3 separate regions of the Homo sapiens genome follow, and regions 1 and 3 are each linked to region 2. The links come from fine-mapping of genetic effects on gene expression. A gene starts in region 2. Each other region holds a variant in brackets. All regions are shown on one strand. Distances are between the middles of the regions.

The links.
Region 1: its variant is fine-mapped to the expression of LINC01050 in lymphoblastoid cells (GTEx, PIP 0.95).
Region 3: its variant is fine-mapped to the expression of LINC01050 in monocytes (Quach 2016, PIP 0.94).

Annotation. Positions count from the first base shown.
Region 1 is chr13:42,138,607-42,141,372 of GRCh38, forward strand. The region is part of intron 3 of DGKH (diacylglycerol kinase eta); the gene reads left to right. Among named protein-coding and RNA genes, the nearest start is that of DGKH, 91 kb to the left of the region's middle. The variant GC/G (reference allele first, on the strand shown) is at 1,320.
Region 2 is chr13:42,811,118-42,813,883 of GRCh38, forward strand. LINC01050 (long intergenic non-protein coding RNA 1050) reads right to left here and starts at 1,445. Exons shown (of 3, transcript NR_125747.1): 1 at 1,275-1,445; 2 at 402-725.
Region 3 is chr13:42,876,145-42,878,910 of GRCh38, forward strand. No RefSeq gene overlaps it. Among named protein-coding and RNA genes, the nearest start is that of LINC00428, 4.8 kb to the left of the region's middle. The variant A/G (reference allele first, on the strand shown) is at 1,372.

The DNA.
Region 1 (2,766 bases), 670 kb before region 2:
TTTTCTAATCCCTCCCTATGATATTGGTTTATATATATTATACCCATAAATTCTTGCACCCTCATTGAAATATTTATGTAATGACTTGACTATTTTATACCATGTTTACAAACATGATTCTTGCCTTTCATTAATCATTGCAGTGGTCCCACCTTTGCTTACATAATTTTTAGATGACTGATAGCAGCAAACCTCATATTTTAACATTTATATTAGTTAAAATATTTTATAGCACTCTAAAATGATGCCATATTAATGCAATTTAAGTGGTTGTGTTTTTTGCCTTTTAAAACTGATTTAAGTACAATTTAGATGGCTTTATACTCTGAAAGCTGATAATTTATGTTAAGTTTAAAATTCATATTCCTTTTTCTATCTTAGAAATTAGGGGCTTTTAGAAATGAAATATCTTATCTTTGTTTCTGTGGGTGTTTCATATTTATCTTTTTATTTAGTGATATAGCATCTTTTCCAAGACTAACCCAGAGAAATAGCTCTTAAGGTTATTATTGGCTTCCTCACACCAAAGTCTTAGGGCGTAAGAAACCATTGGTCCTTTTGTAGCTAGACGAAAATCTTGGGGTGAAGATAAGGTGTGGAAGAAGAACAGAACCGGTGTCTCCACCTTCACTAGTAGCCTTCCAGAAATCTTTCAAATGGGCTTTCTAAAGTAAGGCAAGACCCAGTGAGCATGTCCTCGGTTCTTCTGCCAACTCTGGAGCTCTGGGAACCTAGGACTTGCTTGCAAAACCAGACCAGGGGAGTCCCAGGACATAGATCAGTTTCATCAAAGGGTCCGAGGTGGTTAATAGACACTATCAATAGGTTGGGAGAGGGCACTTGTCATCCAAAGAGCTGTGTCGGACTTTCAGTCAGGGTGTCATGATCATTTGCTGTGCCTGGTGTTACCATGTTCCCCTTGCCCTTACTGAAGATCCATGACTCGGAAAACATAGTGCTCCTGCTCAGTAACCTTCAACCTGCTGCCTCTAGTACTTTTTCTGTCCTAGTCTGTTGCACAGCAGCCCACTCCCCATCTATCTGTCCACTTCCAGGACTGCCCTTAGAATTCATTCATTCATTTATTTAACAAATATTTATCGAAGAGTTCATTATATATAGCAGGCATTTGTGCTAGATTTTGGATATACAGTGCTAAATAAAAAAAATTGGCCACTGAGTACCAAATTTTTAAAAAGTTTTTGCTTGAATTTAAACAAATTTAAAGGCTATGCTGCCTGCCTTCAGGGATAGGTCCCTGTCTTTAAAGTATGTGGCCTTGTGAATAGGATTATTTGGATACCAAAAACGAGGAACTC[GC/G]CTCCCAACTGGGACTGGAAACTGTGCCATCATAGGGGCCCAGGTTATAGGAAGGAGGGGACGGAATTACAATCTTCTTAGAACTTGAGGCCCAGACCATTCAGGATTCCATAAACAAACTTCTGTGAGACTAGTTCATCTGCTCTTCTCCACAAACATGCCCCCCTCCCAGTATTTCTGAGGCCAAACCCTGGCCACTGTGTAGAACTTTTTATCCCTGAGTCTGAATATCCATGTTTTATGAAGCTGATTTCCTAGGTGGCCTTTAGCCTTTGGCACCTTGTGGATTGCCAGTGGCAGACTGCTGTCACATGAAAAGCTTGGCCAGTTATAACCTTGTATCATGGAGGACTGACCTTCCCAGTGTGTGTGCCATGTTGTAGCTCCCAGTGCATGGCCACGTGCTGTGCTGCCTCCTGGTCTTGGGGCTGGTTATAAATCTGCAGTTCACTCATGTGTTCCTATACGAGGCCTTTTACAGACTCCAAATAGATGGTCCTGAGCTGATACTGTCATTGTCACCATGATCCTGGAGACACAGCCTGTAGCTGTGTGGAAGTAAACTTCTAAAACCTGTCTCTTCTGAGAGTTACTGCATGAAAACAGGCAAGGATGGGTCAAGTTTTGGACCAGCAGCCCAAGTTCCACCAACCACTCTGTTATACAGAGGCTTCTAAGCTATGCAGAGTGCTATGAAGGGTTTATTCTTCTTTTGCCCACCTGACTGATATACTGATGTACTTTTTGAAGAAGGGCAATGGAATTTACCTAGACGTCACTGTGGTCTTGATGTGGCTGAAGTGTTTTGTTGAAGGCTCTTTAGTCCTGTACTCATTTAGATTGACTCTCACTTCTGGTCCCTTTTTGTGGTGCAGACTAAAGCCTCAAACTCTGTAAAAGACAATGGCTTGTCTCATGTAAGTATGTGGAATAGGGGCCTAATACGGGAAAATAAGCTACTGGCAGTAAAAAAATTTTATATTTTTATTTATTTTTTATTTTTTTATTTTTATTTTTATTATACTTTAAGTTTTAGGGTACATGTGCACAACGTGCAGATTAGTTACATATGTATACATGTGCCATGTTGGTGTGCTGAACCCTCCTAATGCTATCCCTCCCCCCTCCCACCAACCCCACAACAGGCCCCAGTGCGTGATGTTCCCCTTCCTGTGTCCATGTGTTCTCATTCTTCAATTCCCACCTATGAGTGAGAACATGCAGTGTTTGGTTTTTTGTCCCTGAGATAGTTTGCTGAGAATCATGGTTTCCAGCTTCATCCATGTCCCTACAAAGGACATGAACTCATCATTTTTTATGGCTGCATAGTATTCCATGGTGTATATGTGCCACATTTTCTTAATCCAGTCTATCATTGTTGGGCATTTGGGTTGGTTTCAAGTCTGCTATTGTGAATAGTGCTGCAGCAAACATACATGTGCGTGT
Region 2 (2,766 bases):
GAATGACTAGTAGGCCCAGATTCTTGGGGTGACTTCCTTCGAAGACTTCATTTGTTAACACCTTCCTTCCCTTCTTGTTAGTTTCAGTGGGAAGTAGGATTGGGGTGATTTGGAGAAGCAGTGGGGAATTTAGTTAGGGGAGACTCCTGGGTACCTGTGGGGACATAAAAAGGGATTGGTGTGGGATGGCAGGTAGAGGCCACAAGAGGAGGGCGTGAATGCTACATGAAGGAGTTTGTTGTTGTTTGGTGGAAGAGGAGGAGGTATGCATGTGAGGAGGGGTGGCCATGAGCCTGGAGCTGTCCTGCAGGGCAGCTTCTTTCACTCTGCTGCGTATGTGGTGGAGAGCTCTGACCCACCCTGCTCTTGAGTGTTTCTGAATGCTAGGAGCGGGGACAAACCTGCAAGGCTGATTGGATGTTGAGGAACAAGTATGTAAAGAGAAGTGTATACATAAAAACCAAAAATCCCTGGGGCTTTGAATCCTTCTAGAGCTCCTGGCCACCTTCTTCAGGACAGCAACTGACAGTGTTGTGAAGTGCTTGGCTTTGTCCTTCTCGCAGGCCATCTGGGCTAAGTAGTGAGATCCACGTGGCCAGGAAGGAAGGCATGCATCTCCCCAGGCCTGTGGCTCTCCTTGTATTGACCTTGCTGCTTCCTGGGCTAAGCAGCTGCAGTGAGGGTGTGTTGCCCTGAAGCAGTTACGTCATTCATTAATCCAAATTCTGAAAGACAAATGAGCATATGGTGCTAAAATACTTTTTTTTTAAAAGCCACAGTTTCATTGTCTTAGTCAAAGCAAGATTATTACGTGATTATTTTCAATTCAATATATTTGTTTTGGAGACAGTTTCTTGCTCTGTCACCCAGGCTGGAGTGCAGAGGCACTATCATAGCTCACTGCAGCCTTCAACTCCTAGGCTCAAGTGATCCTCCTGCCTCAGCCTCCTGAGTAGCTGGGACTACAGGCACCTGCCACCATACCCAGCTAACTGTTTTTCCAGTGTTTTTAGAGACAGGGTCTCACTATGTTGTCCAGACTGGTCTCGAACTCCTGGCCTCAAATGATCCTCCCACCTCAGCCCTAAATTCATTTTTTTAAATTAGCAATTTCAAGTATAACAAATTTGGAATAAAGGTTTGTTTTCTATTAATAAAAATGAATAGTGACAAAACCCCCAATATTCTAGATTGTGAGACTTCCCTCTTGTTGTAGTTGGACCACATTTAAGGACTAAATTGGAAGGAAGGAGCAAGAGGAGTCTGTGACAAACCTGTGGTTAAGCTCTCTTTGAAGAAATCGCACAGTATGGCTCCGTGCTCTGAACATGCTCTGTGTCTGCCCTTTTTCAAAGGCGAGACAGCCACCTCGAGGCCAGTCAGACCATGAATAATGGTCTAAGCCCTTGCCACCAGGATGGAGAGGTCTGAGCAGTACAGTGAAGAGGCTTCATCAGCAAGGGCTGATTCAACGGCACCTCTCTCTGGATTCAATGGCATTCTTTCTGGAGGTTAGCCCATTTCTTTAAGTCAGCTCCATCCAAGTTTGATTATCCTTCTTTGAATCTCTTCCAACAATTTGACATCCTTGAGGTTGAATAGCTGAAAACTGCACATAGCGCAGCACTCCACACAAAACACCTTTAGAAATTTCTAGTTGAGAAGAACTTGGGCAAAGTCAAATCTCCCCACTTGATTTTGTTTATGTTCCTCTCTTGGGATTTGTCTTGGGCATGTTACTGTACAAATAACTGCTATCATCATCATCATCAACACCAGTTTTAAGAATTATAATAGCAATAAAATTGACTTACCATTTTTGAGACTGGAGTTTTGTTACCTGATATGGTTTGACCCTGTGTCCCCACCCAAATCACATGTCAAATTGTAATCCCAGTGTTGGAGGAGGGGTCTGGTGGGAGGTGACTGGATCATGGGGGCGGACTTCCCCCTTGCTGTTCTCATGATAGTGAGTGAGTTCTCATGAGATCTGGCTTTTTGAAATGTGTAGCACCTCCTCCTGCTCTCTATTCCTCCTGCTCCTGCCATGTGAGACATGCTGGCTTCCCCTTTGCCTTCCGCCATGATTGTAAATTTCTCGAGGCTTCCCAAGCCATGCCTCCTGTACAGCCTGTGGAACTGTGAGTCAATCAAACCTCTTTTCTTTATAAATTACCCAGTCTTGGGTAGTTCTTTACAGCAGCATGAGAACAGACTAATACATTACCTAAAACAAATTTTGGAAACAAATCAGGTCATTAAAAAGTGCAAGCACGGCCAGCCATACTAAGCCACCTGTTCACTGTGTTGCTGGGGTTTTTTTTTTTTTTTCAATTTATTTTTTTGAGCCAGCATTCTTTTGTGAATATCAATTTCTACTGGGCAATCAGGCCATGTGGTCTCTCCTCTGGACTGGCCCCTACAGCCTTCCACACTCTGTGACACTCAGTGGCCACAGGCCCCTGGAAAATTGGATGTGTGACTGAGTCTTTAAGAGGTGGAGTGACTTACTTTAATTCAGTAAGTCAATATGTTTTAAACTCAGATTGTTTGTTCCACAATAGGAAAAAGCTGTGAAATTTCTTGTCTCAGCTCTGTCTACCACTACTTTGGAGGGGCTACAGGTATCAGTGAGATAAACCAAAGTCAGATATTCAAACTGGGGCATAAAATGTTCTGCATGAGTGTCAAGAATGGTTCTTTGGGTGTGGCGAAGGGTTCACACCTACATTTAATTTTCGAAATGTGTTTCTTAAAAATATGCCA
Region 3 (2,766 bases), 65 kb after region 2:
GTTTATAATGTGGTATCTCATTGTGAACAAAGAGTCTGTTCTGACAGTCTCGTGATCTCTATTTCAACATTAATGCTGGTCAGATGTTGTGTCTAAACCACAAAAGGGAGGGAAGATAAAGAGGTGCATCTGACCTCTCGTCCTGTGATGGCCAGAAACTCAGTTTTTAAAAGGTTTCTCTGGGGTCCTCTTGGCCAAGAGGCAGCCTGTTCAGTTGACTGGGGAGCTAAGGACTTTAGTTTCAGTTCTCAATAATCATCCTAGTTACACAGTCATCAGACTCACCACACCCCAAAGAAAATGAATGTTCTGTGGTTCCCCTTTCTAGGGTCTCATAGGATCAAAGTTTCCCCAGGTTGAAAGGGCTCTCAAAGAAAAGGTATGTTAATTCTCTTGAAGTTTTCAAATTTCAGTGTACCTAGGGATTTCCTTGAGAGCCTGTTATGCAAATTCCTGGTCCCTGGTAACAAGATTTGTGATGTAAGTCAAGGATGGGGCCCAGGAGTCTGTATTTTTTCCAAGACCTCACCCTCTCCCCAAGGGATTTCTTTAGAGATGTACCTGGTCAATTCTGAAATCAACTTCTAAAAGCTTTTCTTGGCATAGAGTAGAAATCTATATCCCTAAAGTACCACCCACTAGTTCTAACAATCACATAGAAAAAAAAGAATGGATTTCTCTTCCTATGATAGACCTTTAAGTATGGGAGATGCCTGTCATCATTTCCAGAGTTCTATTTTATTCAGCCTAACTACTTCGGTCTCTTCTCCAACTCTTCTTCAATACACAACACACACACACACAAACTCCTACAAGGTTACCGAGAATAAAACGTATGCCAACAAGTACAGATTAGGGTGCTATGACTCAGGAACAATGTGTGTGAAAAAGTTTAAAGATTTTAGCTGATAGTAAACTCAATATGTGTCAACAGTATGAATCATTACAAGAGAGTAGGAGAAAGGAGCAGGAGAAGAGAGAAAAAGGAAGAACAAGAAAAAAAATCTCTGCCTCTGGTTGTTGATGGTATCAAATGAGATGCTGATTATGCAGACTTCCCCTAATGTACTCTGCTGTCATGTATATTTCTTTGATCAAATATCTTCCACTTCCTAGAATACCAGCTCCACTCCTCCCCTAAAGCAATGAGCTATTTTCAAAACCATTCATCTTTCAAGATTCAGCTCAAACATCAAGTCCTCAACTGCCCCAGGATAACTTACCTCTCTCTCCTTTAAACTCCCACTGTTCTTTACACAGCTCATCACACTCGATTGTTTACACATGGCTTACTGCACTTACCACCCCCCCCCCGCCCCGCCTTCTAATGTGCTGCCTGCATGATTTCCTTAGATATTATTCTTACTGTTC[A/G]GTGTCTATCTGTCCTAGAATATGAGCTCATGAGGGCAGCTTCTGTCTTATTTAATGCTATATCTCTGGTGCCTGGAAGAGTGCCTGGCACATAGTGAGCACTCCTGGGAAAATATAATTAAAAACGAAATGTCCTCCTAACCCAGAAAAGCTTTCTACAAAGGTAAAAGGAAAACTATTTTATTATTAAATAAGCATTAAACCAGAAAGTGATGCACATTACAGGCAATCTGCTAAAGAAATGGCAAAGACCAGAAAGAACTCTCACTCTTTTATAGCTAAGGGGATACAACCCATTACCATTAGTTAGGCTTTGCAATTTGGAGTCAGACAACAACTGAAGTTACACCCCTCTCCTCTTAGGAAACCGGAAGCTAAAGCCTTAGCTTCCTTGATGATTACATCAAGGAAGAGAGGACGTCCAGGTCCTTGAAGAAACACTCCAGATTGTGAGGTAGCCCAGAGGCTTATTTAGCCACTAAAAAGATTCACATACATAGAAAAGGACAGGGAAAACTTTTTTTTTTTTTTTTTTTGAGACAGTCTCGCTCTGCCGCCCAGGCTGGAGGTGCAGTGGTGCAATCGCCGGCTCACTGTAAGTTCCGCCTCCTGGGTTCACGCCATTCTCCTGCCTCAGCCTCCCCAGTAGCTGGGACTACAGGCGCCCACCACCACTCCCAGCTAATTTTTTTTATTTTTTAGTAGAGATGGGGTTTCACCATGTTAGCCAGGATGGTCTCGATCTCCTGACCTCGTGATCCGCCGGCCTTGGCCTCCCAAAGTGCTGGGATTACAGGCGTGAGCCACCGCGCCCGGCCAGGGAAAACATTCTGAAAGAGAAAAAAGGAGTGGAGAAATTTCTTCCCTTATTTTCGACAGGAAGATTTAAGCTCCTCATCTTACATTTTTACTTGCTCTTTCTGCACTTAATCACCACATGTTGAAAAAGTAAAAACTAAAAGATGGTTTTCCCTGTAATTAACTATAAACACCTAAGGGCAAGAGCTATGTGTTATTTTCCTACACAACACCAATATAGTGTGCACTCAACAAATGTTTGTGGAAAGAGGAAGGAAGGAAGGAAAAGAAAGAGAAACAGGAAAGAGAGAAGGAGAAAGAGAGGAAGGAAGGAAGGAAAAAAAGAAAAGGAGAAAGATGATTTTGACAACTGTAAAACAATCTCCACATTAAGGACTAAGCATTAAGGGAAGAGAATCAAATAACAGACAGATAAGCTGGGCCTATCATAATAGTTATTGACTCTTCATAAACCATCTCTACATGTACATTTAGTTATGCATTGGGTAATGGTTAAAATAGATACCTAGGGTGCTTTCCAAAACTGGATTCTACAGTTCCTAGGTCACGGACTTGGCTTGTCTCCAGTTGGCCTGC